2 separate regions of the Homo sapiens genome follow, and region 2 is linked to region 1. The links come from fine-mapping of genetic effects on gene expression. A gene starts in region 1. The other region holds a variant in brackets. All regions are shown on one strand. Distances are from middle to middle.

Region 1 (4,384 bases):
GGTATTTTTTATGATTACTCTTGAATATGTGCTAAGCAAGGGGTGGATTATTCCTGAGTTTTCCAAGAAAGGGGTGAGTTATTTGGTTATTCCCCCTTCCCTTTTACAAGGGAACCCTTAATCCTAAGGGTTGTAGAGTCAGGAAATATGTCAGCAGGAGTCGACTCAGAGACTCTTCATCTTGAATAGGAGCTGGGTAAAATGAGGCTGAGATCTGCTGGAGTGCATTCCCAGGAGGTTAGGCATCCTTAGTCACAGGATGAAATAGAAGGTTGGCAGGTGGTATCACAAGATACAGGTTACAAAGACCTTGCTGATGAAACAGGATGCAGTAAAGAAGCCAGCCAAAACTGGCCAAAACCTGCCAAAAACCAGCAAGGTGAGGAAAACTACCTCTGGTCTTCCTCATTGCTCATTATTCGCTAATTACAATGCATTCTCATGCTAAACGACACTCCTACCAGCACCATGACAGTTTATAAATACCATGGCAACATTTAGAAGTTACCCTATATGTTCTAAAAGGAAGAATTCCTAGAAAACTCATGAATAATCCACCCTTATTTAGTATATGATCAAGAAATAACCATAAAAATAGCCAACCAGCAGCCCTAGAGGCTGCCCTGCCCATGGAATTGCCATTCTTTTATTCCTTTACTTTCTCAATAAGCTTGCTTCTTTCACTTTACTCTGTGGACTCACCCTGGCCCCGAATTCTTTCTTGCACAAGATCCAAGAACATTCTCTTGGGGTCTGGATTGGGACCCTTTTCCGGTAACAAAACTAAAACTAAGTTGTTAATCTACCTTCAGAGAGAGAGAATAGCAACTTCCTAACCAGGCCAGTTTCAGTCTTCAGTCTGAGGCAGCAAAATAGGGTCTGGAGGCAGGGAACATAAGGCCGATTCACACTTTAGCTATGACAGGAAATAGCCTCTGCGTAGGCCAAGTAAATGACTTTGTAACTTTGCATCATCCCTTTCATTTACATAGTGTGTGCCCCAAGCGGAGGACATTGAAACTCCCCAAAATTCTGGAATGGGGCCTTTGAGCCCCTACGCTCAGGCCCGCTCCCACACTGTGGAGTGTACTTTCATTTACCTTTTTTTTTTGAGATGGCGTCTCACTGTGTCACCAAGGCTGGAATGCAGTGGCATGATCTCAGCTCACTGCAACCTCTGCCACCCAGGTTCAAGTGGTTCTCCTGCCTCAGCCTCCCAAGTAGCTGGAATTACAGGCACCTGCCACTGTGACCGGCTAGGTTTTTTTTTTTGTTTTTTTTTTTTTTTTACTTTTAGTAGAGACGGGGTTTCACCATCTTGGTTAGGCTGGTCTTGAACTCCTGACTTTGTAATCCACCCGCCTCGGCCTCCCAAAGTGCTGGGATTACAGGTGTGAGCCACTGCGCCTGGCCGTACTTTCATTTTCAATAAAACCCTTAATTCCTTCCTTGATTTGTTTGTGTGTTTCACTCTTGTCACCCAGTATGGAGTGCAATGGCGCGATCTCGGCTCACTGCATCCTTCGCTGGGTTCAAGCAATTCTCCTGCCTCGGCCTGCCTAGTACCTGGGATTACAGGCACGCGACACCACGTCCAGCTAATTTTTTGTATTTTTAGTAGTGACGGGGTTTCACCATGTTGGGCAGGCTGGTCTCGAACTCCTGACCTCAGGTGATCCATCCGCCTCGGCCTTCCAAAGTGCTGGGATTACAGGCGTGAGCCACCACTCCCGGCCCAACCCCATGTTTTCTCAGGAACTGGAGTTCCCTTTAGGAAGCAAGTAACAGAGGTGCTGGGCTGCCCGGGCCTCTAGGTCGTCTTCTTTCCCAGGCTCTGTGCTCTCACCAGAGTGCGCGTTCGGGAAGCAGGGAGAGGACCAGGAAAGACGCCTGAGACGGAGAGTGGGCACCGGCCGGGGGCAGGCAGGTCCGGCCCCTGGGGGTCAGAGTGCAGCGCCGGTTTGAGGCAGTTCGGCCACTTAGCTGCGACTCGAAGTGAATGAGTCACTTCCCCTCCTCGGGCGAGCTCCTGGCTTTGCCCCAGCAAGCGGGAACTCCCAGGATCAGGAAGGTCCCAGAGAAACTCCCCAGGGGGGAAGCCGAGGCCGTCCAGAGAGATCCAGGGTACACACAGTGACAGTGCCAGCTCCACATTCCCGACCACCGGGCCAGGGCTGGTTCCACGCTGTCATTTCTCTCCGCTGGCCCCAGCCGCGGGGCCACCGCCAGACAGACAGACCGGGGATCCTGCCTGGCGGCGTGACCTTGGGTTAGTCCTAGAGCCGCTTCTAGCCCGGTTTCCTCCGCCCCAGGTTAGGACCACGTGGGTAAGAAGATTTCCTCTGTAGTAGGGGCTGTTTAATGAGTAACAGAACTGGCTGCTGGTTCTTTACAATTGCCCAGCTGCTCTGCAGAGGCGAGAAGCAATTGCGGGCTGAGCCTCCCGGGACCTTCGCGGGAGGGTGGAGAGGAGGAAGGCGGGGGAGGCGGGGCCAGAGGGGCAGAGGAAGGTGGGGGCGGGCGGGGCTTGTCTGCGGGATGGCCCAGGATGCGGTCAGCTGAGTTCGCCGGCCCAGGGCAGGCGGGGCCCGAGCCTAGCGGTAACCCCCGGGCAGGGCGGGGCCGCTCGCAGACTCCATATGAGATTCACCTCGCAGGTGGTTCCCTCATTCGAGTGCTCCGGCGCACAGACCCGCGCCCCGCCGTCTGCGAGCCTCCCGAGAGCCGTCCCTTCGTCCGGCCCTGGAGCATTGCGTTTGTCGCCGGTGTCGCAGTGCGAGGATGGCGCCGCGGGTGTAGCGGCTCTCTGCGCAGGCCGAGTGGTGAGTCGCCCGCGGCCCGGCTCCCGCCGTTCTCTCTTCCCAGGGGTCTAGCCCGTCCCCTGCCTTGGCCACGTGCCCATTTACCTGTAGGGGCGGTGACGGAGGCTCTGGTGCACCTTGGCTGTGAGCTGCAGAGGAGCAGAGAGCGGCCCGGCGCGGCTGCGCGGGGAGGCGGGCGCGCGGCCGGGAGGTTCTGGGGCTGGTGTGTGCGGAGCGAGGTGGGCGTGGGGGAAGCGCGCGGGCGGGATGTGCTTCCTCGGGTCCACCCCGTGCCTACCTCTCCCACGTCCCGGCGACGGAGCGCGCGGGGCTCTGGGCGGGGAGCCCACCGGGCCGAGGCGCAGCGAGGGTGAAGCCAGAGCCGGCAGGGTCAGGTCCCGCAGGGCGCAGGCGGGCGCTTCTCGCAGCCCAAACCCGGGCGGGGAGTGCGGGAACCCCTAGAACTATGCTGGGAGCCCCAGATAAGAGGAAGGAGATGGTGACTTAAGTGACGAAGTGATGTTTTGTCCCCACCGCCTTTTAAAGGGAGAAGGGGGTAAAATTTCATTTGGAGGATGATTGTTACGCGAGCTTTCAGAGTTCAGATGGCGTCAAGTGGCCATCGAGTCAACATTTAACAAAATGTTACCGCATAAAATATTGTCATCGAGTTATCTGGCAGCTCCGCAGAGAAACTTCACAGGCATATGCGTTATATGACATAATTTGCATGGGGAAGGGGGTCCCTTCACGATTCTTTTATATGGCAACCTGTTCTTGGACCTGGCAGGGCCCAGAGAAGCGAGGAACTCCGCAGCTCGTCGACACGTCTCGTCTCCTGTCCCAATTCAGGGCTTGGTGAGGTGACTCGCGGTCGCGGGTGACTCGCCGGCAGGACACTGCCTGGAACGCCTGGAGCGCCTCCCACTGCAGACGTCTGTCCGCCTCCAGCCGCTCTCCTCTGACGGTCAGTTTCAAAGAAACACAGTCTGGGATCCGGAGTAGAAAGAGGCCGTTTCCCGTGAAGGCCATAGAGGCAGTTTCCAGGCGCCTGGGTGACCTGTCTCTGCACTTCCCTCTCTGCTTCTCCATCCCTGTTTCCTTTCCCCACTGTCCCCTGCCTGGCCTTTCTTTGGCTCATTTTCTGCCTTCCTGGGGTCTTCTGGTTAAAAAGACCATTGGTTCCATTCATTGGCTGTAACCGCGGGTCTTTAAAAAACTTTGTGACTTCCTTGAATAGAAAGAATGTCTTACTCTGGATTTCTACAAGCGCTGCTGAGCCATTCCCAGGGCAGGCCTTTGTCTCTCCCGCCTTTCAGTTTGTTTGCCCATCTGCATTTTGGCCCAAGCTTTCCCCATTTCTCAGCTGCTCTTACATTATTTCTTTTTTCAGAGGCTACCCTGACCTTCTAGTCCTCTGCATTAAACCTCATCACCGCAGACCGTTTTAATTCAGCACAGGTGTATCGAGCACAAATTATATTCTTGGTTCCAATACTTTCAGCACTGGTGGGCATTCATGTTTCATTTAAGAAGGATAAATTAGTGTTTCTTTACATGGGCTTTTTGTCAAAGTGGAATTT
Region 2 (4,384 bases), 41 kb before region 1:
TGGTTGCTAGTTTAAATACTCACATTAAAAATGACCATCCAACAGGAAACAGAGCATGTTATTATTATTTTAAATGAACATGTTAAATGGTAAATGTTTAGGGGTGTTTAGCTATTTTAAGGGGTCAAAGTGGTAGATGCTATCCTAAAAGAAATAATTATTTTATAAGGTACGTTTTATAAATTCATATTTTAGTATATCTCGTTTTACTAACGTTGAGACCTTGTGATTTCTAAGTGGGCCTCCTGATCCTGGGACGCAGGGCCTGGAGGGGTTGGTGTGTTGTTTAGCAGGCACAGGAGGGAAGGGCCCGTCTGTGTTTTCAAGGAGAATGGGTAGTGCTGATGTCAAGAGAGACGGAAGAGAAGAGAATAAGGGAGGGAGAGAAAGAGAAAGAGAGGGAAAGAAGAGGAAGAGGAAAAGAGAGAAAGAGAGAGAGCAGGAGAGGGAGAGAGAGGGAGAGAGAGAGGAGAAAGGAAAGGAGGGAGACAGTGAGAGAAGGAGGGAGACAGAAGGAGGGAGGGAAAGGGAGAGCCAGCGATGGAGATGGAAGGAAGGGAGGGAGTGGAAATGGCTCTGAGCACCAGGCTGTAACTGGTGTCTGTCCTTGCAGAGTGCGGGCTGTCTCCATGCCGGATTACATGGTTCATGAAGAATTTAACCCCGATCAAGCCAATGGTAGCTATGCATCCAGAAGAGGGCCCTTCGACTTCGACATGAAAACAGTTTGGCAAAGAGAGGCTGAGGAACTTGAAAAGGAGAAAAAAAAGGTGACGGGAGCCCATAAATAGACGGCATCCGCATCCGCTTTGCTTCTGTGGTCTCGAGTAATTAAGTGCTGTGATGTTAGCTGCTGGTGGCGTCTTATGTTGCTCGTGGCATCGGCCACGTGCTCTGTATTTTAAGTTTGGATCTACTAAAAGGCAAGCAGGCACCATACTATGGTCTTTCTTTTTCTTTTTATGAATAATGACTTTAAGAGGTAAGATTTCTTTTTGCTAAATGATTTATAGATAGTTAATGCTTATCTAGAGGAAAACTGGCATAGCACTTCTTATCAGGCCAATATAGAAAAGGAATTTTATATTTAGTCATCCCATTTCTGAATATTTTCATTTATTTAAGTATTAAGAGTTTTCTGGGACACTCTTTGTTGATAATAAAGGAAGAGAAGATGAATTCTCTTCTGTATGAAGTCCTGGTGGTGTATTTGATCACAAAGGAGTGACTGGCTGTGCAGTGAAGCCTTCTCAGAGGATGTGTATTTTAAGAATGCAATGGAGAAAGTTGGAAGCAATCTTGAATTGCCAGCTCTGTTGTTGGGAAGTCTTGACAGGAGGACCTTCTATCCCCTTTCCTTGGTGCTGGAAGGAACAAGAGCCAGGCCTTCAGCTCCACCAAGGGCTCAGTGTTGCCCGGGGCATCAGCACCAGGTCTCAGATTAGTCTCAGTTCTTGCAACTTCAGGGTTTGTGAGTGAAACGGTGAAGTTCATATTACAAATAACAATAGTGTTTGATACTGAGAATAAGAGTGAACACCGTTGTCACCTGATGGGTGATCATTTTGAACAATGAAGAGACTGGATGTGTCTCAGCGTACGTGGAAGTTGTTGTGAACTATTTATGCCTGATTCCTAGGCTGTTGCCTTAGCATCTTGGTTTGAAGGGAAACCCCTCAGTTTATTTTGGGGACTTGAGTAGCTGAACACCAAGTGGAATGTCAACTGGCTGCAATGGGCCACATGCTTTTTCTTTAAGATCTCCATGTCCGGCTGTGATTCAGATTTTGGGTTGTTTCCATGATCCGTGCAAAGGCATTAGACCTTTTATTGTTGTTTTTTTGTTTTTGTTTTTTATTTTATTTTTTTAATTAGAGAGAAGTTCTCGCTCTGTCACCCAGGCTGGAGTGCAGCGGCATTATCATAGTTCACTACACCCTCGAACTCCTGGGCTCAAGGGCTCCTCCTGCCACAGCCTCCCGAGTAGCTAGGTCTACAGGTGCATACTACCGTAGACACTCAGCCAAAATGGACCATGTTAAGAATTAGATTTATCTCTTAGTGTTGCACAAGTGACCAATTACACTGAGCTACAACCTCTAGTGATAAATGAACCTTTGGATATTAACCGTGGCTACAGCTCATTTCTACAGAAATCTTAAAATGCTAAATGCTGTATCACTCTCAAATCAAGTGGGGTTTTTAAGTTAGTACCCATTTACAAAAGGTGTGCTAGGGGCTACACAAAGTTCCTGAAGCCAGCCCTTCACTATGGGGAAGGAGATAGGATGACAAGGGGTGGTGGTTAAAGACACACATGCTGAGTATTTAACAGGTAGAGGGACATGGTGTCGGGTAAGGTGCAGGGGATGAGCACCGCATCGGGATGGGCTCTGATTTCCCTAATAAGACAACACCATCACCGCTTTGGTATGAAGGTCACCTATGAGTGATGATCACATCATGGGCGTGGGCCAGCTGACAAAGCGCTTCCTCAGCTGTGCCCTGGCCTCACACGGGACACATGGTGGACACCTGACAAGACTTAGGGCACATGTATTGCCTGTTGGTTACCAGCATTCA[T/C]GGGGGTCTTGCTCACCTACAGGGTGATCGGGGGATCTTGTTTCTTTTTTTTGAAAAGCCATCTTTTCTTCCTATAATTGTTAGCAATACCTCCGTGGATTTTGTTTGCTTCGTTTTGTTTTTTCCCGTTTTCCCATAGCATGTATTTCTATTTCTTTTAATAAGAAACAATTTAGGTAGAGCGAAACCCACCTTTTATAGAGAACTGCTCCCCAGGTTTTGACTAAGGCGTCCCTTGTGTACCACCACAGCTGTCAAGGAACATATAGCAGTTCTGTTGCCCCCAGCATTTCTACCCCTCTTTATAGTCAGCCTCTCCCCTGCCCCTTGCAAGCCCTGATCTGTTTTCAGTCTTTATAGTTCTTCTGGACAGTGCAGGAACATCGCCATCTTGGACAAGCCTCTCATTCTAAAAGTTCACCTTAAAAAAAACCGCCTAAATCCAAGGGGCATCAGCCTAATGGCTAAGGTCAACACGACCATGAACCATAGGTAACATCTCCAACCAGAAACATTCCAAACTCCTCCCTGACCAGAGACATGGTAGCCCCTAAATAAGCTCTCTCCAGCCAGGAAGATGCCAGGCCCGAGTTAACCCCCCTCCGGGCTGAAAGATGTCTGCACCAAGATAACCTCCCCTCCTCCCAGAGAGATTCCAACCCAGCCATGAACTTCTCCACACACATAAACATTCCAAGCTTCTGATAAGCCCCCTCACCCCAAAACTGATATATACTTTTAGTCTGTAAGAGAAAGTGCTCCTGACCACAATCAGCCAGGAGTGCCTCTCAGGTTTTAACTAAAGAAAACCTGTCTTTGACTGCCACGCCGCATTTCGTGTTTCTTTCCTCTTTCTTTAATTCTTACACTTCCTTTTCCAGAATGTGAAATCAATGGAATCATACGGCATGGCGTCTTTCCTGCTTGGCTTCTCCCATGTGGTGTAATGCATTTACATTATGCATCTACATTACATACGCATGGCCATGCTGTTCTGAGTGTCAGTAGTTCATTTGTTTCTGTTGCTGAGTTTCATTGGCTGATCATGATACAATTTGTTTATCCATTCGTTTGTTGGTGGACATCTGGGTTGTTTCCAGTTCTGGGTGATTATTACAAAAGCGTACAGGTGCTTTTGTGAACATATGTTTTCATCTGGGTGTGGGAAGTTCCTTCAGGACGAGGCTCTTAGTTCATTGTTTTTCCTCCTGAGCAGATGGCATCTTTACTCAAATATAGCAACTGCTTTTGAGTTAGTGATAGTCCCTTTTACATAACTATTTTGTTGAATGAGATTATTGCTGAATTATATTTTATTGTGAGCATTTACAATGACCACATTGAAAGTCCAGCCTATAAGCTTTGTATCTTTGCTACCATTAGTGAGTTTTCTTCTCTAGCTGTTGAATGCTTTCCACTAACTCAAGGTTTTGTGTGTTTCCTCACACAGCTGAGGCTACCGGCCATTGACTCAAAGTATCTGAGCAAAGCAGGCACCCCACTTGGCCCTAAGAATCCTGCAGGAAGTAGACTCTCCTTCCCCCCCGTGTAAGTGCTTGAGCTACGCCCTCACTGTCTGGACTGGGTTTGGGTTTGGCCTTCCGTCTTTCATCCGGTGATGACTGCGCTAGTGACAGCATCCACACAACTTCCCGAAGCCCTGTCTGTGGCCTGGCCTGGCTGTGCCTGTCGCCTCCTCACTGTGGTTTCTGTTCCTTCCTAATGTCATTTTGCCCCTGTTGAACACATCTGCCCTTCCAGGTCATGCTTGCTGCAGGTTGGCAGTGTGGAGGCTCTGCTT

Evidence for each region. PIP is the estimated chance that this variant, and not a neighbour inherited with it, causes the effect. A credible set is the group of variants that fine-mapping cannot tell apart.
Region 2: its variant is the best candidate, but not a certain one, in a credible set for the expression of UPP1 in whole blood (INTERVAL, PIP 0.58).

What each region holds. Positions count from the first base shown.
Region 1 is chr7:48,086,597-48,090,980 of GRCh38, forward strand. It overlaps UPP1 (uridine phosphorylase 1), which reads left to right and starts at 2,669. Exons shown (of 9, transcript NM_003364.4): 1 at 2,669-2,822; 2 at 3,592-3,768. RefSeq lists enhancers at 1,672-2,201, 2,014-2,223, 2,734-3,263 and silencers at 2,364-2,703, 3,044-3,233.
Region 2 is chr7:48,045,847-48,050,230 of GRCh38, forward strand. It overlaps C7orf57 (chromosome 7 open reading frame 57), which reads left to right. Exons shown (of 9, transcript NM_001100159.3): 5 at 614-770; 6 at 4,034-4,131. Among named protein-coding and RNA genes, the nearest start is that of C7orf57, 12 kb to the left of the region's middle. RefSeq lists enhancers at 2,512-3,711, 3,847-4,347. The variant T/C (reference allele first, on the strand shown) is at 2,584.